Linked DNA regions of Homo sapiens: regions 1, 2 and 4 are each linked to region 3. The links come from fine-mapping of genetic effects on gene expression. A gene starts in region 3. Each other region holds a variant in brackets. All regions are shown on one strand. Distances are from middle to middle. Region 1 has its middle 48 kb from the start of C9orf72. Region 2 has its middle 14 kb from the start of MOB3B. Region 3 holds the start of C9orf72 (C9orf72-SMCR8 complex subunit). Region 4 has its middle 81 kb from the start of C9orf72.

Evidence for each region. PIP is the estimated chance that this variant, and not a neighbour inherited with it, causes the effect.
Region 1: its variant is the best candidate, but not a certain one, in a credible set for the expression of C9orf72 in nasal epithelium (TOPMed, PIP 0.89).
Region 2: its variant is the best candidate, but not a certain one, in a credible set for the expression of C9orf72 in prefrontal cortex (BrainSeq, PIP 0.53).
Region 4: its variant is the best candidate, but not a certain one, in a credible set for the expression of C9orf72 in liver (GTEx, PIP 0.85).

The regions. Positions count from the first base shown.
Region 1 is chr9:27,620,248-27,622,939 of GRCh38, forward strand. No RefSeq gene overlaps it. Among named protein-coding and RNA genes, the nearest start is that of C9orf72, 48 kb to the left of the region's middle. The variant G/A (reference allele first, on the strand shown) is at 1,315.
Region 2 is chr9:27,542,376-27,545,067 of GRCh38, forward strand. No RefSeq gene overlaps it. Among named protein-coding and RNA genes, the nearest start is that of MOB3B, 14 kb to the left of the region's middle. The variant C/T (reference allele first, on the strand shown) is at 1,560.
Region 3 is chr9:27,571,918-27,574,609 of GRCh38, forward strand. C9orf72 (C9orf72-SMCR8 complex subunit) reads right to left here and starts at 1,564. Exons shown (of 11, transcript NM_018325.5): 1 at 1,514-1,564. RefSeq lists enhancers at 958-1,047, 1,646-2,173 and a silencer at 1,558-1,637.
Region 4 is chr9:27,653,220-27,655,911 of GRCh38, forward strand. No RefSeq gene overlaps it. Among named protein-coding and RNA genes, the nearest start is that of C9orf72, 81 kb to the left of the region's middle. The variant CT/C (reference allele first, on the strand shown) is at 1,380.

The DNA.
Region 1 (2,692 bases), 48 kb after region 3:
ATGCACATTAGTTTTGAGAAGCACTGGTATAGAACTCAGTTCCTGCTCTTCTCACCCTAGTAGCCTTGAACTAACTACCTATAGCCTTGAGCTTGTCCCTGGAGTACACGCTGTCCCTGTGGTGGCTGGCTGCCTGCAGCCAGTTCACCTACTTGTTTGGTCTTGTCAGTTCTGCCCGCTTTCAGATTGGCTATCACTGTGTTGGGCTCAACTCTTTCCTTACTTTATCATCTCATCTTAGATGGCCCAAAGCAGGTGTTTCCCACGGTTTCCCTTTGGTTGTCTGCCTTGATGATCTTTGGAAACTACATATCCAACTGGGCTCTCTTCCAATACCTGCAGCTCTCCATTCACCCAGTGCCTGCCCACCCAGGCCACTGATCCTGAGTATGTGAACCGACCAATGCTCTGACCCGATAAATGTCTTTATGTTTTCATCTGAAGAATTCCGTTTAAATGATTATTTCAAACTCCTTAATAATTGATCAACACCTAAAAAAGATGAAACAAAGTGATTTGAAAAAATGTGTTCCCTCAGAGACCTATTGGGAAAGCAAATTAAATATATGTGTAGAACTTGGCTTTAAGGGTATTACAATAACTTAGGTATAATTAACATGTATACAATTCAAGAATAAATCAACATAAAAAATAAAAATAAAAATGTCCATAGTATGAAAGATGCCATAAACAGAGATAAAAAGACAAGCATTGGCCAGGCGTGGTGGCTCATGCCTGTAATCCGACCACTTTGGAAGGCCGAGGCGGGCGGATCACGAGGTCAGGAGATAGAGAGCATCCTGGCTAACACGGTGAAACCCTGTCTCTACTAAAAATACAAAAAATTAGCCGGGTGTGGCAGCGGGCGCCTGTAGTCCCACCTACTCAGGAGGCTGAGGCAGGAGAATGGCGTGAACCCGGGAGGCGGAGCTTGCAGTGAGCCGAGATCGCGCCACTGCACTCCAGCCTGGGCGACAGAGCGAGACTCGGTCTCAAATAAATAAATAAATAAATAAATAAATAAAAGACAAGCATTGGTTTGGAAGAAAATCATTGCCATATACATAAAATACAAATGATTAACATCTTGAATATATAAAGAGCTCATATAAATCAATAAGAAAAAGATAACAGCTCAAGAGCTGAAAAGCAGAGGATGTGAACAGGTAGTTCACAGAAGGAGAAAAGCCAGTGATCCATAAAATAAAAGAATTAATGTTCAATCTCACTAGTAATTGGAAAAATGCATTAAAACAACATTGCGATAGTATTCTTCATCCATAAGATTGTTAATTAAAAGTATTATAACCAGTG[G/A]GGGTAAGGATGCAGTAAAACAGACATGTTCTTACACTGTTGATGTGAATCTAAACTGTTAGAGTCTTTTGGTGGGTTATTAAATTACAACTGTATTTTTCAAAATAAAAATATTTATATTCTATGCCTCCTTTGTGATTCCTCTTCCAAAACCCATACTAAAGAAATATGCATACATACAGCAAAAAGATACACAAGAATGTTTGTTAATTGCAGCATATTTTTAAATTATAAAAATTAGAAAAGTCCTAAGTGTCTATCAATGGGAGAATAAGTAATTAAGCTACAGTCCATCCATATTTTGGACTACTCTGCAATGAGTTGTGGCTGGGCGCGGTGGCTCACGCCTGTAAATCCCAGCACTTTGGGAGGATGAGGTGGGCGGATCACGAGGTCAGGAGATGGAGACCATCCTGGCTAACACGGTGAAACCCCATCTGTACTAAAAATACAAAAAAAAATTAGCTGGGCCTGATGGCAGGTGCCTGTATTCCCAGCTACTTGGGAGGCTGAGGCAGGAGAATGGCGTGAACCCAGGAGGTGGAGCTTGCAGTGAGCCGAGATTGTGCCACTGCACTCCAGCCTGGGCGACAGAGCAAGATTCTGTCTAAAAAAATAAAAAAATTAAAAAAAGAATGGGTTGTATGTATGTACAGTAGATATAGAGGAAGATGTACTAGAGGTTGCACACAATTTCTTCCTAGGCCTTATTATATCTATGTAATATATATTATGCACATATAGTATGTTACATATACATAACATATTTTTTAAATATATGTATGTATTTCCAAGACATATAATTTGGTTGAAAGCAAGTCATAGGACAATATCCACAATGCAATTCCATTTAAGTTAAAAAACCATACCTCTATATATGTATATATCAATATGTATGTATATATGTATGTATATACATTATACATACATGCATATAGGTAGAAACATTGAAAAAGAGCTAGAAAAACATTTACAACTAAAATGGTGTATTCTTCTGAGGAGATGAGGGTTGGATAGGGTAAGAATGAAGGAAGGGTTACTTTCGTGATTTGTTCAATAATCTTTGTGTTGTTTACATCTTTACAGTGAGAATATATACACATATATCATAATTGTATGACAAAAAACAACAAAGAGGGAAAAAAGAGGGAGGCAATAAAGAGCAAAAAAAAGTTACCACTAGACAGCTAACATTATGAAGATGATAAATATATGATGAAGATATTATATTATTTGATAACATATACATACATTACGTTATATTATCAAGATGGTAATTACCACGGGAAAGCTGAGAAAGCATATAGACAAGTTCCTCCTTGAACCACAATTTCCTCATTTAACAGTTCCCCAGGGTGAAGAGAATGGGGGAGGTGGT
Region 2 (2,692 bases), 30 kb before region 3:
ATAAATTATGGTCTTTCTCCATAAAACTCAATTTGAGCACTAAAACTGACTTTTTACCATTTGTTATGAACATTCTGAACAATCACAATAAAAAGTAGTGCGGAGACACTATTCAAGTCTCTAAAAACATCTTAGGAGTGGTACATGAAGCAAAATGCTGGGTGTGAGTGTTTTTGCAGATTCAGGCTCCAAAGAACAAAAAAGCAGAAAAAACAAACAATGGTGTTTTTAAACAATGAATGTTGTTTTCCTTTAGCCATAAGGGAATTTTAAAACTTGACAAACTCATTCAGCTTTCAAAGCATTCCACATTCCCCACCCACAAGCAAATGCCAGAAGGTGCCAGTTTGAGCCAACTCAGCTCAGGAATGACTTTCTAAATACTGGATCAGATTTCTTGAATGTCCGCGCTCCACAGATGGATACTTACTATTGTCCTAATTGGTCTGATGAAAAGTACTTAGCAATTTATCAAGCAATTAATTTAACAAAAACATTTCAGCAAGAGATGAGATGGTGTGGCACAAATGCAGAAACAGAAATTTGAAAAGATTCAAATGTATTACTTCAAAAAGATTGAAAAATTGCTGCCTAAAATCTTTGAAACTTTAGAGCTAGGTTGTGCATAGGCTTAATTTTTAATGAAGAATCTTCTGGGAAAATAAGTTTTTGATTATATAAAGAAAGCAATTTCCTTGATTTGCAGGAAATAATTCTTTTTGGGGAAAAACAAATAAATTAATATTTAATATACTCATTACATCCATCCAGCTAACATTTACTGGAAGCATGCTGTGTGCCTGGCACCATGCTAGGCACTGAGACACAAAAATGAAAAAGACAAGAATCTTGTTCTTTAGCCTAGGTGGGGAGATAGATAAGCAAAGGAATAGTGTAATAAATGCAATAAAAGAAATACGTACTAGCTAGACCTGTGGGAAGAAAGGTTAGAAAGATGAACAGAAACTGTGCTAGAATTTTGGACCTAATTCTGTAAGTGTTGGAGAGCCATTAAGCAGAAGTGATCGTTAGATTTAATTTTAGAAGGATCATGCTGTTATCAATGTGAAGAATGGGCTGTAGTGGGGAAACGCCAAAGGCAGATTCTGTTCCACTCTTCATAAAAATCGTACCACAGCACTCTGATACCCTTTTTGCTCTCTAATCCATTTCTCTTTTCCCCCCAACACAGATAATTTAGAAATTATTTAGTCTTTTAAAAGCGCTGGTGTCCAAGTTTTTGAGGTTTTCCCAGATATTTGTTATTGGTTAATAATTTAATTCCATTGTGGTCAGAGAACATATTTTCTATGACTTGAATCCTTTTAAATTTATCAAGATTTGTTTCATGGCTCAAAATACGGTCTATCTTGGTACATGTTTCATGTACTCTTGGAAAGAATGTGTGATTTATTGTTGTTGGGGACTGCTGTGCTCTACAAATGTCATTTAAGTCAAATTGTTTGATAGTCTTGTTCTAATCTTCTATATCCTTACTGATTTTGTGTATTCTTGTTCTACTAAACATTGAAAGGATATTAAAATCTCCAGGCTGCGTG[C/T]AGTGGCTCATGCCTGTAATCCCAGCACTTTGGGAGGCCGAGGCAGGCAGATCACGAGGTCAGGAGATCGAGACCATCCTGGCTAACACGGTGAAACCCCGTCTCTACTAAAAATACAAAAAAATTAGCCAGGCGTGGTGGTGGCCGCCTGTAGTCCCAGCTACTGGGGAGGCTGAAGCAGGAGAATGGCGTGAACCTGGGAGGCGGAGCTTGCAGTGAGCTGAGATCCTGCCACTGCACTCCAGCCTGGGCGACAAAAAAAAAAAAAAAAAAAATCTCCAAACATAATTGTGGACTTGTCTACTTCTTACAGTTCTATCAGTTTTTGCTTCATCTATTTTGACACAGCTATGAGGTGAAAAAACATTTAGGACTGTTATATCCTTTTGCTGAACTGACTCTTTTATCATTATAAAATGATCATTTTTACCCCTGGTAATATTCTTTGCTCTGAAATCTATTTTGTTTCATATTGTCACTCCAGTTTTCTTCTAATTACCAATATGATGTATCTTTTCTCCATCCTTTTACTTTTAATCTGTTTGTTCGTCCTTTATTTTTAAGGTGTGTTTCCTGTTGGCAGCATATAGTTGGGTCTTGCTTTTTTATCTGATCTGAAAATCTGATTTTTTAAGGACATTTCTAAAATTGAAAAATAAAAGTTGTATATATTTATAGCATACAATATGATGTTTTGAAATAAGTATACATTGTGAAATGACTACAGTTAATTAATATATACATTACCTCACATATTTATTTGTAGAGAGAACACTTAAAAGATACTGTTAGCAATTTTCAAGTGTACAATATATGTTGTTGGTTATAGTCACATTGTACAATAGATCTCTTGATCTTTAGCTTATTCCTCCTATCTAACTGAATAAGTTGTACAATAGATCTCTTGAACTTATTCCTCCTGTCTAACTTTGACCAACATCTCCCCAGCCCACCGCCTCTCCCCAGCACCTGGTAACCATGTTTTTACTCTCTGCTTCTATGAGTTCCAAGTTTTTCAATTCTGTGTGTAAGTGAGATCATGTGGTATTAACAATCTCTGACTTTTAATTGGGGTGTTTTGAATGTTTATATTTAAATATCTTTAAAAGATAATTGACTGTATAAGTAAAATT
Region 3 (2,692 bases):
CAGGGAAGACTGGAAGGTGAAGTTCATATCACTATCTGGCCATTTCTCACAGTTCCAAGTTTCTCAGACAATAGGTAGGCTAACCTAGTCCTCCTGGGAACTATCTAATTAACGTAGAATAGAACCCGAGGGCAGACTTGAAAAACAGAAGTCCTCCTTGGTTTACTTTGTTTCTCTGAAAGCAAATTGTGGAGTGCCAACATAGCCAAACAAAATATTTTATCAACTTCATAAGGTGCTTGTAATTTTTTCCTGGAGCAGGTAAATGCTGGCTTAGTGAACAATCTGGAATGTGGTAATTACTCTCGTTCTTGTTTCAGATGTACTATCAGCATGTAGCAGTTTCCAACTGATTCAGGGTTTTCCTAAAGTGGCAGGCCTTGGCAGAGGTGGTGACAACAATGCCCGTGTCAAATGACACCGTATTTCAAGTATTCTGACTCCAGGTTATTAATATCCCCTATATGATAGTCTTGTTTCTGTGATATTCACAGATTATGTTAAAAGTTTCCCAAAGTCTGAGAAAAATCATATCTTAACAGTATCTTTTTTTTTTTTGATCCTTTGTACAAAAGTAGAAGTAATGCCAGACAGATTACGTACCCTTGTTGTGAACAACTGGTGCATGGCAACTGTTTGAATAGAAATTTACCAACTGCCACAACCAGGCAACTACTCTCCCAGAGCCTAACAATCTCGATTGCATCTGAAAGGGCCACCCCTCCTGGGAAAGTGCAGGACCTCCCTCCTGTTTCTGAATACAAAGCCTGGTGGTGTTCAACGCGGCCAGATAGACCCAATGAGCACACGGACATGTAATCTGTGCACTTCTTTAGACAACTGATTACCATCAGTCAAGTGATGCCCAAGTCACAATAGTCACTTCCTTTAAGCAAGTCTGTGTCATCTCGGAGCTGTGAAGCAACCAGGTCATGTCCCACAGAATGGGGAGCACACCGACTTGCATTGCTGCCCTCATATGCAAGTCATCACCACTCTCTAGAAGCTTGGGCTGAAATTGTGCAGGCGTCTCCACACCCCCATCTCATCCCGCATGATCTCCTCGCCGGCAGGGACCGTCTCGGGTTCCTAGCGAACCCCGACTTGGTCCGCAGAAGCCGCGCGCCGCCCACCCTCCGGCCTTCCCCCAGGCGAGGCCTCTCAGTACCCGAGGCTCCCTTTTCTCGAGCCCGCAGCGGCAGCGCTCCCAGCGGGTCCCCGGGAAGGAGACAGCTCGGGTACTGAGGGCGGGAAAGCAAGGAAGAGGCCAGATCCCCATCCCTTGTCCCTGCGCCGCCGCCGCCGCCGCCGCCGCCGGGAAGCCCGGGGCCCGGATGCAGGCAATTCCACCAGTCGCTAGAGGCGAAAGCCCGACACCCAGCTTCGGTCAGAGAAATGAGAGGGAAAGTAAAAATGCGTCGAGCTCTGAGGAGAGCCCCCGCTTCTACCCGCGCCTCTTCCCGGCAGCCGAACCCCAAACAGCCACCCGCCAGGATGCCGCCTCCTCACTCACCCACTCGCCACCGCCTGCGCCTCCGCCGCCGCGGGCGCAGGCACCGCAACCGCAGCCCCGCCCCGGGCCCGCCCCCGGGCCCGCCCCGACCACGCCCCGGCCCCGGCCCCGGCCCCTAGCGCGCGACTCCTGAGTTCCAGAGCTTGCTACAGGCTGCGGTTGTTTCCCTCCTTGTTTTCTTCTGGTTAATCTTTATCAGGTCTTTTCTTGTTCACCCTCAGCGAGTACTGTGAGAGCAAGTAGTGGGGAGAGAGGGTGGGAAAAACAAAAACACACACCTCCTAAACCCACACCTGCTCTTGCTAGACCCCGCCCCCAAAAGAGAAGCAACCGGGCAGCAGGGACGGCTGACACACCAAGCGTCATCTTTTACGTGGGCGGAACTTGTCGCTGTTTGACGCACCTCTCTTTCCTAGCGGGACACCGTAGGTTACGTCTGTCTGTTTTCTATGTGCGATGACGTTTTCTCACGAGGCTAGCGAAATGGGGCGGGGCAACTTGTCCTGTTCTTTTATCTTAAGACCCGCTCTGGAGGAGCGTTGGCGCAATAGCGTGTGCGAACCTTAATAGGGGAGGCTGCTGGATCTGGAGAAAGTGAAGACGATTTCGTGGTTTTGAATGGTTTTGTTTGTGCTTGGTAGGCAGTGGGCGCTCAACACATAATTGGTGGATGAAATTTTGTTTTTACCGTAAGACACTGTTAAGTGCATTCAAAACTCCACTGCAAACCCTGGTAGGGGACAGCTCCGGCACTGCGGGCGGGAATCCCACGGTCCCCTGCAAAGTCATCGCAATTTTGCCTTTACATGTAAGAATTCTCTCAAGCATGATTTTCACACTGGGGAATGTCATTTTTGCTAGTTGCAATATGTGGATGAGTTGTTTTTTTTTAACTTTTGAAAAACGTACCATTCTGTTTGATGTGTAAAAAACACAAAGATTTTTGAAACCTTGCGTCTTTTGGTCTGCAGGTGTATAGATTCCACTTACTACAGATGAGTAGCATTTACACCACTCAGATGTGTAAAAAAACAAAGGTTTTTTAAACTGTGTGCCTTTTGATCTGCAAGTGTGAGATGGCACTTACTACAGTGAGTAGCATTTAATCTTTTTCATCACTAAAAATCACACAGAACGTTTTAATCATTCACCGAGGAAGAAAGGGAGGAATAAATACAC
Region 4 (2,692 bases), 81 kb after region 3:
TTTGTGTTTCAAGCTAAGTGTTATCACAAATGAGTCAAAAAGTTAAAAAACTAACAAACTTATAAATTTAAAAAGTTACAGCAAGCTAAGACTAATTAATTATTGAAGGAAGAAAGTAGCTTTTTATAAATTTAATGTAGCCTAAGTGTACAGTGTTTATAAAGTCCACAGTAGTGTGTAGTAAAGTTCTAGGCTTTCACATTCACTCACCACTCACTCACTGACTCACCCAGAGTAACTTACAGTCCTGCAAGCTTAATTTATGGTAAGTGCCCTGAACAGGCGTACCATTTTAAATCTTTTATACCAGTACTTTTATTGTACCTTTTCTATGTTAAATAGGTTTAGATACACAAATACTTTTCATCATTTTAACTGCCTGCAGTATTCAGTACAGTAACATGCTGTACCAGTTTGTAGTCTAGGAGCAATAGGCTATGCTATAGCCTAGGTATGTAGCAGGCTATACCCTCTAGGTTTATGTAAGTTCACTCTACGATGTTTACACAAATATGAAATCACCTATAACACATTTTTCAGAATGTATCCCCATCATTAAGTAACACATGACTGTACCACTCTGACATATGAATATCATGAATTATTAAATTCCATTAAATTATGACTAAGAAAATTAATGTATCTGCATGAAGAATCTATGTTAAATAAAAATATTTTTAACATTTATGTAAATAACAATGTCACTTAAAGTCAATTATGTCTTTACAGTAATAAGAATTGGGAAAGGCCCAGCTTTAGGATGTTTTGCTTTTAAGTCGACTTTAATGTATAATTAACGTGCAGTAAAATGTACCTATTTAAAAGGTTCATTTTGATGACATTCTGCAAATGTATATGACTATGGGAACACTATCTCAATCAAGACCTTTCCATGACCCCAAGAAATTGCCTCATGCCTCTTTGTAGTCATCTCCCCCATCACCCCCATCCCTGGCCTCAGTCAACTGCTGGTCTGCTTTCTGTTACCATAGATTAGTTTTGCTTTTCTCTAGAATTTCATATAAATGGAATCATATAGTACGCACTCTTTTGTGTTTGGTTTCTTTATTTCAGCATAACATTATGGATATTCATATATTCTATTGCATATATCAGTACTTCATTCCTTTTTATTGTTGAACATATTCACTATGTGGATATACTGCAATCTGTTTATGTATTCTGTTACTAATGCACTTTTAGACTGTCTCCAGTATGGTGCTATTATGAACAAAGCTTTTATAAATATTCTTGCACAAATAGTTGTATGGACATGCATTTTACTTCTCTTGACTAAACAAAGGTAGAATTGCTGAGTAAAGGTTTTTATTTAAAATTTCTCTTATGTTTGCTTTATTTTATTTATTTTAGAATTAGGT[CT/C]ATTTTAGCCTCAAATAAATACCTCCTTATTTGTAATACAAACATTTGATCAAAGTTCTTCTGCAGAAAGGAGCCATAGTCTTTCTTTTTATCTTAGTTGGTGTTTAACTTCTTATACTCTGGCAGTAGTGATATGGAAGGGGAGCAAGGAAGTGCTGGGAGGAGAAGGGCAGGGCCCCGGCGAGGGCTGCACCCCTGGGCCTGTGCCCACGGACCTAGGTGAGGACAGGCACTTCTACCTTCACGCCCAAATGCTGCATTTCCCAGCACCGCCCTGGCCCGCCACGCCCCCATCCTATAAAAACCGCGACTAGCAGGCAGACACACAAGCAGCTGGACGTTGAGAGGAACACCTTGGTGGAAGAAGACACAAATGGCTGGACGTTGAGAGGATGTAGAGGGGAGCATGCTGGTGGAAGAGCACATGACAGACACTGGCACGCCAACAGGCCATCAGGCCATCGACCAGCGGAATGAGGCAGAGTTTGGCAGGGGCAGTTGGAGGAGAGCCCAGGCTACTGTGCAGCCTGACTCCAGGGGAAAACCATCTCCCTTCTGGCTCTCTCATCTGCTAAGTGCTACTTCCATTCAATAAAAGCTTGCATTTATTCTCAAAGCCCATGTGTGATCCGATTCTTCCGGTACACCAAGGCAAGAACCCCAGGATACAGAAAGCCCTCCGTCCTTACGACAACGCGTGGGTCTAATTGAGCTTACTAACACAAGCAGCGGGATGGCTAAACTAAAAGAGCACCTTGTAACATATGCCCACTGGAGCTTCAGCTGTAAACATTCACTCCCAGACACTGCTGTGGGGTCAGAGCCCCACAGCCTGCCTGCCTGTGTGCTCCCCTAAAAGTTTGAGCAGTGGGGTACTGAAGAAGCTAGCCACACCCCCATCGCACACCCTGTGAAGGGGGCAAGGGAACTTTTCCTGTTTCAGTACTCCAGATATGCTGCAATGTCTTTTGTAGTGTTGCCTATATTTCAGGAAACTGGGAGCTTAGTTTATATATGGAAAAAGGGAAGTATTCTCTGTGGTAAAGGTCATAAAGAAGAGAGCTGGAGACAGAGAGACAGTGTCAGGATCATCAGCCTGTGAATTGGGTAGAAAGGAGTGGTTAGGTATATGGAGCAAGATGAATACAGAAGAAGTAGGCTGAAACGCCTTTTAAATAAATACCAGAGTGAAATGCTGAGAACAGAACCAATTTCAAAACCATCTGTCTTTAAGTCCTTTTCATCTTTTAGAATACGAACATGTCACTTTTCCTTGGGTTCTTTAGAAACTCTAAAGGGTGAAAACTGTTAG